Regions from separate parts of the Homo sapiens genome. Here all the other regions are reported to be linked to region 1. The links are microRNA targets in miRTarBase. Many come from high-throughput screens and were not tested one by one. Region 1 holds a microRNA gene; each other region holds the end of a gene's coding sequence. Distances are between the middles of the regions.
The links. The annotated mature microRNA hsa-miR-2115-3p reads CAUCAGAAUUCAUGGAGGCUAG and lies in region 1 at 3,002-3,023, shown strand. An mRNA with a match to its seed (bases 2 to 7 or 8) in the 3' UTR can be bound and repressed. Matches are read on the target gene's strand: a 7mer-m8 pairs with bases 2 to 8, a 7mer-A1 pairs with bases 2 to 7 and ends in A, and an 8mer does both.

Region 1 (4,759 bases):
CAATGAGACCTTCTCTCCAGACATTCCTCCAGTATTTGTTCCTCCCTTTCTTCCATTCCTTTCTGTGACCTCAAAAGGTACATGTGATCCTATTCAGACAATGCAGAAACAGAAATCCACTAAGGTGAGGGCACTGTGTGTGACCTGGACAAGCCTCAAGTGGAGGCACTCAGAAACAAGCAGCCATAGCATGTAGATCATGTGACCCTACATGAAGGTCATCCTCATGCCCCCTCAGGCCAAAGAACAGAAACAAAGAACAAAAAGAAGAGGAAGAGGAAGCTGGGTGAAGAATCTTCCCAGCTAATAGTTTATTGGTCCTAAAATGGATATTATTTTCCAAAACAACTTTCTTTTGCTTTCAACTTAGTATGTGGTTTAGTCTCTGCACCCATCACATGTTAGAAGCTTTGAGTAACACACAAGTGAAACGCCCAATTGTTTAGCCCAAGGGGAATAGTGAGGAGCAGGGGTTTGTATGAAGGAAACTCCGTATACAGTTAGGAGGATTCTCTGACATCTGCCTTCTCCTTTAAGGAGAAAAGCCACACCCTTGTCTAACTAAGGCTTACAAGTTGAGTGCTATCTTAAGAGAGAAAAGCAAAAACACAAGAGTAGATCAGAATTAAGTCTCTCTCCCCTTCCTCTTCTTAGCTTCTCCTCCAGAGAAGGAATAAGAATCTTCTTGATCAGGATGAGAGATATTTGGCTGGGCAGGATCGGACTTTCTTGTATTCTTGGCTGAATAAACACTAAAGCTTACACTAGAACCCATACGAGAGTTGTAAGGTAAACAACTTTGGTGTCAGCCTCAATCACTGGCACAGACGCTGACACCTGACAATCAGAAAGCATCATCTGGGGAATGCGCAGCATGACAGAGTCAAACGATGCTGGAACCAGGAGACATCTGAGAGATGGCCTCTAAAGAGCTCCCTTTCAGTGTATCTTAGAAATTATTCTAGCTGGGCGCAGTGGCTCACGCCTGTAATCCCAGCACTTTGGGAGGCCGAGGTGGGCGGATCACCTGAGGTCAGGAGTTCGAGACCAGCCTGGCCAATATGATGAAATCCCGTCTCTACTAAAAATACAAAAATTAGCCGGGTGTGGTGGTGCATGCCTGTAATCCCAGCTACTCAGGAGGATGAGGCAGAAGAATCCCTCGAACCCAGGAGGCGGAGGTTGCAGTGAGCTGAGATTGCATCACTGCACTCCAGCCTGGGAGATAAAGCAAGACTCCGTCTCAAAAAAAAAGAAATTATTCTCTTAGCAGTTGCACTGGATATTACAAGTTAAATTCTAATTTATACCAATCTAATTTGGATTAATACCAACTTAATTACAAAAATTTTAAAAAATATTTTTGCCTGGAGGGGTGGCTCAAGCCTGTAATCCCAACACTTTGGGAAGCTGAGGCAGAAGGATTGCTTGAGCCTAGGGATTTGAGACATGAGCAACATAGCGAGACCCTGACTCTACAAAAAAAAATTAAAAAATTAGCCAGGCATGGTGGCACCTGCCTGTAGTCCTAGCTACTTGGAAGTCAGGATGATTGCTTGAGCCCAGGAGTTCAAGGCTGCAGTGAGCCATGATCGTGCCACTGCACTCTAGCCTGGGCAACAGAGCAAAGTTCTTTTGAGACGGGCAGATCAGGAGGTCAGGAGATAGAGACCATCCTGGCTAACATGGTGAAACCCCATCTCTACTAAAAATACAAAAAATTAGCCAGACGTGGTGGCGGGTGCCTGTAGTCCCAGCTACTCAGGAGGCTCAGGCAGGAGAATGGCATGAACCTGAGAGGTGGAGCTTGCAGTGAGCCAAGATCGCGCCACTGCACTCCAGCCTGGGTGACAAAGTGAGACTCCGTCTCAAATAAATAAATAAATAAATAAATGCTCCTTTTTTTTTATTTTTTGAGATGTAGTTTCACTTTTGTTGCGCATGCTGGAGTGCAATACTGTGGTCTCGGCTCACTGCAACCTCTGCCTCCTGGGTTCAAGTGATTCTCCTGCCTCAGCTTCCCGAGTAGCTGGGATTACAGGCGCACACCAACACACCTAGCTAATTTTTGTATTTTTGTAGAGATGGGGTTTCACCATGTTGGCCAGGCTGGTCTCAAACTCCTAACCTCAGGTGATCAGCCTGCCTCGGCCTCCCAAAGTGCTGGGATTACAGGCATGAGCCACTACACCCAGCCAAAAAATGCTGTTCTTAAATAGCTCCATTCTCCCCATCCTTCTTTGAACTGTTTTTGTTATACAAATTACAGCTTTATTCATTGTACACCCATTCACACAGATTTATAATTGTTTTATGCAGTTGCCTCTTAGGAGAGAAAGATTTACAAACAAAAATATGTTTATACTGTCTATTATTTTCCTATATAGTTACTTTAACTGGCTCTTTATTTCTTCACATGAATTCAAGTTTCTGCTTATGATCCTTTCATTTTAGCCTGAAGGACTATTTAGTATTTTGTAGGTCTGCTAGCAACAAATTGCCTCAATTCTTCTTTATCTAGACATATCTTAATTTCACCTTTCTTTCTGAAGAATAGTTTGGTGGGCATAGAATTCTTGGTTGACTGTCATTTTCTTTTTTTATTTTTCTTTTATTTATTCATTTATTTATGAGACCAGGTCTCACTCTGTCACCCAGGTTGGAGTGCAGTGGCATGATTGTGGCTCACTGCAGCCTCGACCTCCTGGGCTCAAGTGATCCTCCCACCTCAGCCTTCTGAGTAGCTAGGACTACAGGCACACCCCACCATGTTCAGCTAAATTTGTTTTTGTATTTTTGGTAGAGACAGGTTTTCACCATGTTGCCCAGGCTGGTCTTGAACTCCTGAGCTCAAGCAGTCCACCCTCCTCCACCTCCCAAAGTGCTGGGATTATAGGTGTGAGCCACCGTGCCTGGCCACCTCTCATTTTCTTTCAGCATTTTGACTGTCATCCCACTGCTTCCAGCTTCCATGACTCCTGATGGAGGAATCACATGAATTCATCAGAATTCATGGAGGCTAGAAGCAGTATGAGGATCATTTACATGTGATATTCACTTCTCCCTTTCTGCTTTTTGGATTCTCTCTTTGCCTTTGTCTTTTGGCAATTTTATAATGATTTGTCTATGTGTGGCTCTATTAGAATGCATCCTATTGTAAGTTTTTTGAACTTACTGGATGAAGTTTTTCATCAAACTTGGGGAATTTCAGCCATTATTTTTCCAAGTATTCTCCTCTCCTTGAGGGATTCCCTTTATGTATATGTTGATGCCCTTGACAGTGTCCCACACTTCTCTGTGGCTATATTCATTTTTTTCCCAATTTGAATTGAGTTTTATCTTATTGGTTATGTGAGGCATTTTAACCCATTTTGTTCTTTTTTCTTCATAATTATTTTTCTTTCTTTTCCTCAAACTGGTTACTATTCATTGGTCTATCTTCAAGCACATTTGACTCTTTCTTCTGTCTGCTCAAATCTTATATGAGCCCCTCCAGGGAATTTTTCATTCTAGGTCATTGTAATTTTCAACTTTAGAATTTTTATTCAGGTTCTTGGAAAATTTTTTCTGTCTCTTTATTGATATTCGCTATTTGGTGAGACATCATTCTCATACTTGCCTTTAGTTCTTTGTTCTTTACATACAGTTTCCTTCAGTTCTTTTTTTTTTTTTTTTTTTTTTTTGAGATGGAGTCTTACTCTGTTACCCAGGCTGGAGTGCAGTGGCATGATCTCGGCTCACTGCAACCTCTGCCTCCTGGATTCAAGCAACTATCCTATCTCAGCCTCCCAAGTAGCTGGGATTACAGGCTTGTGCCATCAAGCCCCACTAATTTTTGTAGTTTTAGTAAAGACAGGATTTCACCATGTTGGTCAGGCTGGTCTTGAACTCCTGACCACAAGTGATCCACCTGCCTCAGCCTCCCAAAGTGTTAGGATTACAGGAGTGAGCCACCACACCCGGCCCAGTTCTTTAAACATAAGTAAAATAGCTGATTTAAAATGTCTTGTAAGTCCAACATCTGGGCTTCCTCAGTGACAGATTCCATTGACTGACTTTTATCCTATATGCGAGCCATACTTTCTTTTCCTTTGTACGTGCCATGACTATTTTGTTGAAAATTGAATATTTTGAATAATATAATGTGGCAACTCTGGAAATCAGATTCTCACCTCTATCCAAGGTTTGTTGCTGTTATTTGTTGTTGTTGCCATGTGTTAGTTTAGTGACTTCTGAAATAATCCTGTAAAGTATGCATTTTTTGTCATGTATGGCCATTGATCTGGTCCTACTCATTATCTTATTATCAGCTAATGATTGGAAAAAAATTTCCTTAAATGGCTGGAACCAATAAATCTCCCAGTCTTTGACAACAAAAACTTTGTGTGTGCACTGAGGCATGTCTCTACTCAACCAGGCAGTTTAAAGCTACACTTTAGTGGTCACTGGATGTTTGCACAGACCCACAAGATTAGTTAGAGATGAGATGTTGGGACTTTCTCTGGTCTTTTCTGAGCATGCAGAAAGCCTTACACTGGCTGCAAGGCCTTCTGTATTTCCAGTAACATGTTAGAGCTTTTCAAAACCTCCTATGGACATCTCATTGCCTAACTTACTTTTAAGCTCTTGGTTAACCTATTGTTTTTCACAACTGTTACACACTGTGCAGCAGCCATGATGTTAAACAGTTGCCTCTGATTGTTTTCAACAAATTTTCCCAGGGAAAAGGCTGTTTGCACCAAGAGAGGTTTGAGTATGG
Region 2 (3,000 bases), not on the chromosome of region 1:
ATACAATCATCTACATTTTGATTAAGTCTAGAAAAACACCTCCTTATAATTAAAGCAGAATCAAAATTTCAGTGAGAAGAAAGAAAATCATTTGCCTAGTACTTGTCTCTTGGAAAAATTAAGATCTGAAATAGGAGGAGTTTAGATCAGTGGTTCTCAAACATTAGAATCACCTGGAGATTTTAAAAAACCCCTGTGCTCAGCTGGGTGTGGTGGCCCATGCCTCTAATCCCAGTACTTTGGGAGGCTGAGGTGAGCAGATCACTTGAGGTCAGGAGTGCAAGACCAGCCTGACCAACAGGGTGAAACCCCATTTCTACTACAAATACAAAAATTAGCTGGGTGTCATGGCGGGCACCTATAATCCCAGCTGCTTGGGAGGCTGAGGCATGAGAATCACTTGAACCCAGGAGGTGGAGGTTGCAGTGAGCCGAGATCGCATCACTGCACTTTCAGCCTGGGTGACAGAGCGAGACACTGTCTCAAAAAAAAAAAAAGAAAAAAAAAAAAAAATCCCTGTGCTCAAACACAGACCAATTCAACATGAATCTCTGGGTGTGGGGCCCAGGCATTATTTTTTTAAATCTCTCCAGATGGCTTCAATGTGCAATAGTCTCGCAAACTAATAGTTTTAGACAAATATATAACAAGGTAGTTATTAAATTTATCAACTAACTGACCCAAATTAATCAAGAAAACACAGATTTAGTATCCCTGGTCTGAAAATCCAAAAATCCAAAGTGCTCCAAAACTCAAAGCTTTTTCAGCACCAATATGACGCTCAAAGAAAATCCTCTTTGAGAATTTAAGATTTCAGATTTTAGGATTACGGATACTGAACTGTAAGTATAATGCAAATATTCCAAAATCTGAAAATACCCGAAATTCGAAACACTTCTGGTCTCAAGCATTTTTGAATATGAGATATTCAACCTGTATTTTGACTTTTAAATTACCTCTTCAGGACTGGTTAGCAAAAGTACCATACACTGTAGTGATAAGGATTGTGATGTGCTACAAGGGCCTAAGTCAAAACTTAACAAAGACAAGGGTTGATTTTTAAATTTCTTATGACCACGTTTTAACAAATTATTTAGTAAAATTAGCAACTACAGTGGCTATAAGTTGTTCTAGTCTTATTTTTACCAAAGCAAATTAAAAATGCAGATACATATTAAGTATTGTGGAAATTATTTGCCCGTGAGGCCTTGTAATTGTAATTTCTTCTTTTGCATATATACTTTTCTGCTAGAACAGGACATATGAAAAAAATGATTGTAAAAATGGCCCCAAGTGGACCAGAAGATATAGTCCTAGTAATCAGACACATGACACCCCTCCCTACTCTACCCCGATTATACAATTACTCAATTGAGGATTCTTTGGGCAACTCAGAATTTTAATGAACACTAATAACCCCCCAAATGTGTGCAATACAAATAAAATTTTTATATTTATTTTTTATTCCTACAGAGAAGAAGAAACACATTCGTACAAGGGTTCATTTCCCAGTGGTTAAATGTACTGAGAAAAATACATTAACAAAGTAACTCAAGGATACAACTGCTGTGAATTCAAAAGACAGACTACTACAGGAAAAGTGAGTGCACTTACTTTCATATTTTGCAGCTGTTAATAGAAGTCTTAAACATTTAAAATTTAACTAATTCACACAACCTCCACCAAGTATCAGTAAATAAACTTCTAAACAATAAAAATGGATAAACATGGTCAGGTTGTTAGGTTAAGAGCTAAAAATTTCATTTTGCTTCCATGGTTGCAACCATGAGTCTTAAGGCCTTCAAAGCATAAACATCACAGAACACCTATCACAAACCACAAACCAACCACAGGAAAACCCTTTTTATTCTGTGTATCTTCTGTATTTCATTAAATCTAATAAGCCATCAGTTGTAAGATGCATCCTAATTCAGAGATGTCACAAAGTGAAATAAGTATCTCTGGATCAATAAAATATGGTATGTATATATACCCGAGATATGAGAGGAAACTATTTACCAGTTTGAATTACTTCCATACTATTGTGCCAAACAACAATTAAGTGTCAAAACATTGAAATTTTATGTAGGTAAGCTTTTTATTATTGTTTTCTTTACAGGAACAATAATCCAAACAAATCTTGAACCAATCTATAAACAGAAAACCTGTTATATAAATTATTATCTATTTTTGCAATACATCAAAATACTGTATTGATGAAAATAAATAGATAACAAAAAACAATATACATCATTTCTATGTTTGCTATCAGACCCCACAAGTATGTTTGTTTTTACAATTCATTATAGGTGAAAAACAAACTGAAACACAACAGGTAAGTACAATTACGCCACTGTTAAGGACTGCAGATTACACGTGTTAAAGCTTTTCTTAATAAAATGGGAACACATTGCTAGGTACACAGAAACATGATTTTGCCCTAAAGAACAGCTGAACTGTTGAGAGAAGCAAGGGCTTCCTAGCGGCCTTCCAGTGTAGCAGATAATATTACCCTGTGTAACAGAGTATTACAGAGTTTTGCATTTTCCAAGTCTGTAAGTCTAACCATAAACAAAACAAAGACAAACCCAAACATTAAGATATACTGACAATCTTGTTCCCATATATGATAGAATAGTTCTCATACACTGTTAAGATTGATTTACTTTTTTATTAGGAGCACTTCTCAGGTTTTTGGCATTTCACATGTCTACACTCAGTGTCCATTGGCTCCTTCTGAGAGTATCCTTGAAGGTTCGGTAAATTTTGCAGTGAACAAGTAAAAAAGGGCTGGTGTAGGTACCAAAGCCAAAAGGGGCAAATCTTGCTCAAGTTTATCCACTCTGGAAATGGAGATTATTCCATAGGCATGAAGTAACCAGTGGCTGAAGAGAACAATAAGTCTTTTCTTTCTGACCAGAAGATCATAGCAGTTCTATATAATTTTGTAAAAGAAAGAAAAGAGAAATACAGATTATCAGGCTAAGTCAGCTGGGTAAT
Region 3 (3,000 bases), not on the chromosome of region 1:
TTATTTCTTAAATTATTATCAAGAGAAAAGTTTCATAAAACAGAAAAACACCATGTTTTAAAGTAAAAAAATTTTGCATATATATTAATTTTTAGGGAAATCATTATGAAAGTGCTTTACATAAGTTTATCTGGAATGTAGATTTTCAACGTGTGAATAATGCTAACATTATTGTGGCTTTATTTTTTCCCCACAGTGTGACAAGCGGAATCCAAATGGCATTCGAGTGGCTCCAGTTCCTCTCTATAATTCTTTCCATGATGTTTATAAATTTACCAATCTGCTCACTTCTATACTTGACTCTGCAGAAACAAAAAATTAGCAGTGTTTTCTAGAACAACTTAAGCAAATTATACTGAAAGCTGCTGTGGTTATTTCAGTATTATTCGATTTTTAATTATTGAAAGTATGTCACCATTGACCACATGTAACTAACAATAAATAATATACCTTACAGAAAATCTGATATAATTTTTCAGAGTCTGTGGCACTAAGGAGTCCACAGGGCTGCCTAGGTGCTTTGTGTTTGGGGGACCAAAACTGTGTTGGTTCAAGTATTATCTATACAGTCTCTATAAGCTGTCACATTTCATGGTCATTGAAATGTTTTATGTTGGTTTAATTTCTGATTTAACTGACAACTTCATAATGTATGTGCAATTATTGTGTCAAATTTAGAAATATTACTTTAGCTTCAATTTACCAAGGAGTTTCTTTGAAGCATTGTAGTCTGATATATATATATATATATATATATATATATATATATATATATATATATGTGTGTGTGTGTGTGTGTATATATATATATATATATCATATATATATGATAGTGGCTTTCAAATTTTTTTGGGTACAATCCACATTGCTCCTGCTGATCTGTAATATCAGAAACCAGTATTTATGTGAATATATGAGAAATATTATTGATTCTAAGATATTTTATCATATTTTAACATCTTTGAAAGAGGACCCATCTTTCAATTTTCGATCAATAGTTTCTTACAGTCACCATTGGCCATCTTTCTCGTTACCATCTATGAAATTAGCATGCATCTCAAATAAACAGTTACCATCTTCTATTTGATAAAATAGTCTAAATAGCAAAAATAAAAGTTTTTACAATTATTTGCCTGTGCTCTAATAGGTACTATTCTATTTTATCTCATAAGAAATGTTGGAAACTCATTATATTGATTTCCTTACCCACTCATGGGCCCTAATTCACACTTTTTAAGAATGTTTCTTTCTTTAATGTTATCATAATCTCTTACTTTTTAAATGAGAACTTCCCCTAATATAAGAGCTTAGATATTATATTACTATGTTTCCATAGTAAATAAATAACCCCAAGATCTTTTTGGGGATTAGAGATATAAGAAATATGTGCTCCATCTCTTGACATCTTTATCTCAAATCTATGGACCTTTCTTACCCACTGTGAAAAACCTAAAGTTACACTTAGCCCTGTTGGACTTACCTAGTTTTCAATTGTTGATGCCACAATCATTATTTATAAGTTGACAAAATAGTGTAGATTTGTATACATAGTCAACAAAAAGAGTGACATAATTATTGCCTCCAATTAAACAAGTTTGAATGAAATAAACAAACTTAGATAAACACTTCGGATGGTAGACGTAAACAATAATATGTGGAACTCCAACATCAACACCTACCAATACCAGTAACTACTGATATTTATCATGTACTTACCATGTACCATGTATTGTGCTACATTACTCATGTTATCTCCCTTAATTGAGTGGCTACATACTGCTTTAGCAAATCTTCCTACTGTAACTAATCCTCATAGATGGAAGAGTTCTCAAAACCTTAAAACTCATGCATAAGTGGATTCATATACATATATAAAAATATATATAAATATATATACTTTATATATATTTATATTTATATATTTATATATTTATATTTTAATATATTTATATAAATATATATAAAGTATAATATATATAAAGTATAAATATATATATATTTATACTTTAAGTTCTTGGATACACGTGCAGAACATGCAGGTTTGTTACATAGGTATACATGTGCCGTGGTGGATTGCTGCACCCATCAACCCGTCATCTACATCAGGTATTTCTCCTAATGCTCACCCTCCTCTTATCCCCAACTACCCAAAAGGACCTGGTGTGTGATGTTCCCCTCCCTGTGTTCATATGTTCTCATTGTTCAACTCTCACTTATGGGTAAGAACATGCAGTGTTTGATTTTCTGTTCCTCTGTTAGTTTGCTGAGAATGATGGTTTCCAGCTTCATCCATGTCCCTGCAAAGGACATGAACTCATTCTTTTTTATGGCTGCATAGTATTCCATGGTATATATGTGCCACATTTTCTTTATCCAGTCTATCATTGATGGCCATTTGAGTTGGTTCCAAGTCTTCGCTATTGTGAATAGTGCTGCAATGAACATATGTGTGCATGTGTCTTTATAGTAGAATGATTTATAATCCTTAGGGTATACCCAGTAATGGGATTGCTGGGTTAAATGGTATTTCTGGTTCTAGATCCTCGAGGAATTGCCACACTGTCTTCCACAATGGTTGAACTAATTTATACTCCCACCAACAGTGTAAAAGCATTCCTATTTCTCCACATCCTCTCAGCATCTGTTGTTTCTTGACTTTTTAATGATTAGCATTCTAACTGGCGTGAGATGGTATTTCATTGTGGTTTTGATTTGCATTTCTCTAATGACCAGTGATGATGAGTTTTTTTTCATATATTTGTTGGCCGCATAAATGTCTTCTTTTGAGAAGTGTCTGTTCGTATCCTTCACCCACTTTTTGATGGGGTTGTGTTTTTCTTGTAAATTTATTTAAGTCCCTTGTAGATTCTGGATATTTTCCCTTTGTCAGATGGATAGATTGCAAAAATTTTCTCCCGTTCTGTAGGTTGCCCGATCACTCTGATGATAGTTTCTTTTGCTGTGTAGAAGCTCTTTAGTTTAATCAGGTTCCATTTGTCA
Region 4 (3,000 bases), not on the chromosome of region 1:
TTGGCTATTTTTTGTCAGTACTCAGACTTATTTTCCAGCTTTTCAGCTTGAGGAGAGCACAATGTGGTGGGAAGTCTGTGGACTAAGAAGTTGGACTTACTGATCTCAGCTCCTCAGTTCCCCTCTTGCTGACTTTGTGACTTTGAAAAAACAATCATATTGTATTATAGTCAGCATTTTGCTGTAAATCATTCATTATGATGTTCCCCTAAATTGTTTCCACTGACAAAAAGGATTCACAGTGGGGGTGAGAGTATTGCAGTCTATAAAGGATGGGTTTTTAGATGGGTTCTCTTCCCATCTTTCTTACCGGTGTTGATTTTTTGTCCTGATCAGATACAACATTGAACGGATGCCAGATGATTATGGAGCCCCTCGATTCTAATTCTTACAAGACACAGTTCCTCTGCCTTTCTTCGACCAACTTTCTCTTGTTGCCAGTTCATTACACAAAATGTAGCGGGATTTTTAAGGAATCAGAGAGACTGATGGAGTTCAGGGAGATATTTATTATTTAGGTGCACCAGCCCAGTCAGATTAACATCCAAAGGACTGAACCCTGAACAGAGTTAAGTTACCTTTTAAGCATTTTGTGGGGCCGCGGGGGTTGGGGGGAATCTGTGCAGGGGGAAGCATATTACAGAAGCAAGAAAGACAGTTATTCAATTAACTGAGACATGCATTACATCATTTCTTACTTTTCAAGGAAAATCATGTTTTACGACTTGAGTTTATCTGTCTAGTTACCTTGCAGCTGCACAGCTAGAGAAACAGGGTATTTACAATGCCTGGGAAAGGAGGAGAGATAAGGCTCACTAGCCACAGAAAAACAGGCAGTTAATTTTTAAAGGACTCCAGCTCTTTCTCTTTCTCACGGGGAATTGGATTTTCTTACATGCAACTGAATTTCTGCTTACACATTTTTAAATTTCTTTTAATTGCTTTTCCAATGCAATAGCATGAATTATTATTCTGTTGACCTATTTGCCTTACTATGAGCTGAGGGTAGTTCAATATGCTCACTCTTTTTTTTTTTTTTCTTGAGATGAAGTTTTGCTCTGTCACCAGGCTGGAGTGCAGTGGCGTGATCTGGGCTCACTGCAACCCCTGCCTCCCATCCTTCAAGTGATTCTCCTGCCTCAGCCTCCCGAGTAGCTGGGATTACAGGTACACACCACCATGCTCAACTAATTTTTCTTTTTTGGGCGGGGGGGGTGGATATTTTTAGTAGAGACAAATACTTTTGTATTTTTAATACAGAAAAGTATGCCTCGGCCTCCCAAAGTGCTGGAATTACAGACATGAGCCACTGTGCCTGGCCTGCTCACTTTCTGATGCTGCTTTTTTGTTGTTTGTTTGTTTATTTGTTTGTTTTGAGACGGAGTCTCGCTCTGTCACCAGGCTGGAGTGCAGTGGCGCAATCTCGGCTCATTGCAACCTCCGCCTCCCAGGTTCAAGCGATTCTCCTGCCTCAGCCTGCGGAGTAGCTGGGACTATAGGTGCGTGCCACCACGTCCAGCCACTGATGCTGTTTTGCCACTGATGCTGTTTTGAAATTGATATTTTGTCTCATAAAAACTAGGCCAGGCATGGTGGCTCATTCCTGTAATCCCAGCACTTTGGGAGGCCAAGGTGGGTGGATCACCTGAGGTCAGGAGTTGGAGATGAGCCTGGACAACATGGCAAAACCCCACCTCTACTAAAAATACAAAAAAAATTAGCTGGGTATGGTGTCACGTGCCTGTAATCCCAGCCACTGGGGAGGCTGAGGCAGGAGAACCTCTTGAACCCAGGAGGTGGAGGTTGCAGTGAGCTGAGATTGCGCCACTGCATTCCAGCCTGGGTGACAGAGTGAGACTGTCTCAAAAAAAAAAAAAAATTAATGATGGTCAAAGGGTATAAAATCTCAGACAGGAAGAATATGTTTTATGCTTTTTTTGAGTTCTGTTGTACAGTGTGGTGCCTATACTTAATAATGGGGTATTATACATTTCAAAATTGATGTTCTCATCACAGAAATGTATTTGAAGTATTGCATATGTTAACTAGCTTGATTTAACTATTCCATATTGTATCCACAATTTATGATATCACTTTGTAACCCATACATTTATACAATTATAAATTGTCAATTTACAATAAAAAATTTTTGTTGCGTCTTTTTAGAAATCAGATATTCTGATGATTGCTCACATAATTTGGCGGTCATTGTTTTATACTGACTTACTCAATAAACATTTATTAAATGTATACTAGGTGCTTAATAAGAGATGGTCCTGCCCTCAAGACACTCATTATGGTGGGAAAGAAAAACATGTAAATGAATAAATGCCGTAAAATAGCAGTGCTAGGGTAAAAGTTTCAGAGGCATGTCATGGGCACATAAAGGTGGAATGATTTTTTTCTACTGGTTGGGATGGAGAGGGAGGAAAGGCCAGTGGTCATGTGGTTTGAGCTAATCTTAAAAATGAATAGGTGCCTCCCCAGTAAATTAGGAATGGAAGATGAAGCATAGGAAACAGTACACCATAGAAAATCCATTAACCTATGTATAATCCCAGCACTTTGGGAGACTGAGGTGGGCAGATCACTTGAGGTCAGGAGTTTGAAACCAGCCTGGCCAACATGGTGAAACCCCACCTCTACTAAAAATTCCAAAATTAACTGGGCGTGGTGGTGCAAGCCTGTAGTCCCAGCTACTTGGGAGGCTGAGGCAGGAGAATCGCTTGAACCCGGGAGGCAGAGGTTGCAACGAGCCGAGATCACGCCACTGCACTCCAGCCTGGGCGACAGAGTGAAACTCTGTCTCAAAAACAAACAAACAAAAAACCTATGTATTTGTGGGGATTTGGTATATTATTAAGGTGGTATTTCGTTTCTGTGGGAAAAGGAAATTTCATTAACAGGCCAAATAGTCTGGAGTCATTCTGTTAGTGTTAGAATACTAATTCCACCAGTTAATATCTGTATGAGTTGGACAAACCATATAACCATCTGTTG
Region 5 (3,000 bases), 7.8 Mb from region 1:
TGGGGGGTGGCAGTCCAGTAGCAGGCACCAGCAGCTGCTGAGTTTCCACTGGAACCACTTGGTTCTGTGGTTGGTCATTTTTCCTGGCTTCTGCCTATGTGGCATCCCAGCTTAGCTCCTCTTAGACATTTTGTAAGCTAATTAATAGTATGGAGCAAATCTAAGGTAGATTCTTCAGTCTACTGCTGATCACTGACACGGAATGAGGAACCAGAAGTGGGTTACTGAGTGTGACAGAACCTTAAAACACTGGCACTGTTTAGTGGAAGTGACTGAGAATACGGTGGTGAAGAATCAGATACGGCAAGGTGAAAAGTAGATGGGCGAAACGAGGTGGCCACAGCCCTTCCGAACTCAAGTTGGCTCCATATGTTCTCATTCTAGCACGGGGCTGAAGGCGCAGCCACTTTCTGGAGCTTGCTGTTCTCTCGCCGAAGGCAGAAACATAACCATCAGCTGAGCATGAGAACTGAGAGGGATGCTTTGGAAGTTACAGAAGAGAGAAAGTATAAAGTAGTGGCCTAGGAAAGCAGGGGAGTTAAGTGGACTCCAAAAATTGTAGTATGACCATCAGGAAACGTTAAGGGCCTCCATGAAGTTACTGGTCATGAATTTAAAGTGACAGTTCAGCCTGGTAATATGCTTTCTCCTGATCATTTTTGGTGCAGGAACAGAGAAGGCAAAGAACTGCATTTAGTCAGAGATGAGGTTTTGCCAAGCGAGCATGACAAAGCAAGAGAAGGGCAAGGGAGTTAATGGAGACTGTAAGGCATTATTTTAAGAATTAACCATAGAGTTTATGCTGGGTAAAGGAGGAGGGGTGGGCATTTTCTGTTTGAAGCATATCTCTCAAAGTATGGTCCATGCTAAAGATCTGGCCATCACCACAGATAGCCAAAATCAGAATTTGTGCAAGAGAGAAAACTCTTCTTTTTACAAGCACACTATGTAATTCAGACACATGGTAAAGTTTAAAAACCAAGAATGTAAAGGTTTTGCTATTAATTGCTATAGAGAAACATCTAGATAGCAACATCAGCAAAAAAAAAAAAAAAATGTATGGACCCTTCCATCAAAGCTTAGGACTTACTGTTTACATTAATGCCAATAAATGCATAATTCAAGTTCTTTTTCCAGTAACTACTTCACACAGTCCTCTGAATAGTTGTAAAGGATCCTCATCAAGGCCACTTCCAAGAGCAACCCCAAATTCCACTTCACTAACCTACCTAGCCACTGACCCACTACACAGCTCCCTTTATTTCTTAAAAAAAAAAATTTTGGAAGCTTATTCAGATTCCCCTCGAGTTGGCTTTACACCATTATTTTTATTTCTTTAGTAATTAAATTCATATTTATAATTCATAAATATGAAATAAAATATAGAAGCCAGTGCTCACAAAGAAAAAAAAACAGAATGCTCATCAAGAAAAATCTGCACAACAGATTCAACAAAGATGAATGCCTTTGTGTATATTTACTTACGAAATAAAAGTTAAAAGAAACATCTAGCTATCAAGAGCAAAACTAAAGAAAAAAAAACTTCACGTTTAAAGACATGATTACTCTCACTGCCATCAACATACTTTTTTTTTTTACTGTTTATTTCACATTATCTTTTTCACAGATGTATGAGATTCTCAAAGATCTGTGCCAAGGGCAACATAACTTCAACTGTATTAATACCCCACCTAGCCATGGGCCCACTAAACAATCTCCATTAATCTCTACAGTCCATTGTTGGAAGCTTATTCCAATTCTCTACCAGTAGCCACAGGTCTTGTATGTTTCTCCCAGGCTGCTTATCTCTAATCATAATGGCCTAATACAGGGATATCCTCTTTTCCAAACTTTCCTAACACCAAAGTGTTCTACCACCAGCAACCCCACGATGCAGATACAGCCACTGTTGTTCAAGCCTGAAAGGGACCAATGCAAAGGTTAAGTATTTCCATTTTCTACCCAGAAGAGATTATGTAAACACGGTCTTTAAATGTATATAGATTATAATGGAGTTTATGTTGAAACAGCTGTTAACACATGTAAGGTGATGAAAAAAATACAAATGAAACTCAAATTAGGTTGGAGGCTGGGCACAGTGGCTCACTCCTGTAATCCCAGCACTTTGGGGGGCCAAGGCAGGCGGATCACTTGAGGTCAGGTGTTTGAGACCAGCCTGGCCAAGATGGCGAAACCCCATCTCTTCTAAAAATACAGAAATTAGCTGGGCGTGGTGAGGCGTGCCTGTAATCCCAGCTATTCGAGAGTCTGAAGGAGGAGAATCGCTTGAACCCAGGAGGGGGAGGTTGCAGTGAGCCAAGATCACACCACCGCACTCTAGCCTGGGTGACAGAGCAAGACCCTTTCTCAAAAAAATATATAAAATTAGGCTGGAGATTTGCTAGGCATAAGAGCCGTAAGACTGCCAAGATAAAGCTCATGAGGAGTGAGAAGAAGGGGTGAGAATAACTGGGGAAGGTTTCACAGTGGGAGTAAGACCCTGGAAGACACGCACTATTTGGGCAGATGAAGAAGGTATTCCAGATGTAGGCAGCAGCATGAAAAAATTCCCAGAGGTAGGAATGAGCACAGCATGTGGAAAGGTCAGTGAAGGCACAGCTACGGCTGAAGCAGAACAGGATCCCTGGAGAAGAACAGGAGGTATGGCTGGAGAGGAGCACTGGGGACTGACCAGGGATGGCCCAAGGACCTTGACTGGCTTCTTCTCCACAGGGTGCAATTTCTGATGCTGAACAAAACTTCCATACCATTTGAAGGCTTTCCCACACACCTTACATTCATAAGGCTTCTCCCCAGTGTGAACTCTCTGATGCTGAATGGAGGCTATTTTCTGGGTGAAGGCTTTGCCACACTCCTTACATTGATAAGGTTTCTCCCCAGTATGAATTCTCTGATGGACAATAAAAAGTGACCTACAACCGAAAGCTTTCCAACATTCCTTACATTTATAGAGTTTCTCTCCCGTGTGTAATCTCTGAT

Region 2: miRTarBase lists JKAMP as a target of hsa-miR-2115-3p. Seed matches in the 3' UTR shown: 7mer-A1 at 2,267-2,273.
Region 3: the mRNA of KYNU is a reported target of hsa-miR-2115-3p. Seed matches in the 3' UTR shown: 7mer-A1 at 462-468, 7mer-m8 at 624-630 and 7mer-A1 at 730-736.
Region 4: miRTarBase lists FCF1 as a target of hsa-miR-2115-3p. Seed matches in the 3' UTR shown: 7mer-m8 at 1,330-1,336 and 7mer-m8 at 2,177-2,183.
Region 5: miRTarBase lists ZNF621 as a target of hsa-miR-2115-3p. Seed matches in the 3' UTR shown: 7mer-m8 at 900-906.

The regions. Positions count from the first base shown.
Region 1 is chr3:48,314,645-48,319,403 of GRCh38, reverse strand. It overlaps MIR2115 (microRNA 2115), which reads left to right and starts at 2,945; the gene lies at 2,945-3,044. The region is part of intron 6 of SPINK8 (serine peptidase inhibitor Kazal type 8 (putative)); the gene reads left to right.
Region 2 is chr14:59,503,789-59,506,788 of GRCh38, reverse strand. It overlaps JKAMP (JNK1/MAPK8 associated membrane protein), which reads right to left. Exons shown (of 7, transcript NM_016475.5): 7 at 1,379-2,935. The coding sequence ends at 2,717. It overlaps CCDC175 (coiled-coil domain containing 175), which reads left to right. Exons shown (of 20, transcript NM_001164399.2): 20 at 1,474-1,722. The coding sequence ends at 1,550. It also overlaps a transcript of L3HYPDH not described here. Among named protein-coding and RNA genes, the nearest start is that of JKAMP, 21 kb to the right of the region's middle.
Region 3 is chr2:143,041,851-143,044,850 of GRCh38, forward strand. KYNU (kynureninase) reads left to right here. Exons shown (of 14, transcript NM_003937.3): 14 at 197-3,000. The coding sequence ends at 322. Among named protein-coding and RNA genes, the nearest start is that of ARHGAP15, 86 kb to the right of the region's middle.
Region 4 is chr14:74,734,546-74,737,545 of GRCh38, forward strand. FCF1 (FCF1 rRNA-processing protein) reads left to right here. Exons shown (of 8, transcript NM_015962.5): 8 at 337-3,000. The coding sequence ends at 385. Among named protein-coding and RNA genes, the nearest start is that of FCF1, 23 kb to the left of the region's middle.
Region 5 is chr3:40,532,528-40,535,527 of GRCh38, reverse strand. It overlaps ZNF621 (zinc finger protein 621), which reads right to left. Exons shown (of 5, transcript NM_198484.5): 5 at 1-3,000. The coding sequence ends at 2,438. Among named protein-coding and RNA genes, the nearest start is that of ZNF621, 9.1 kb to the right of the region's middle.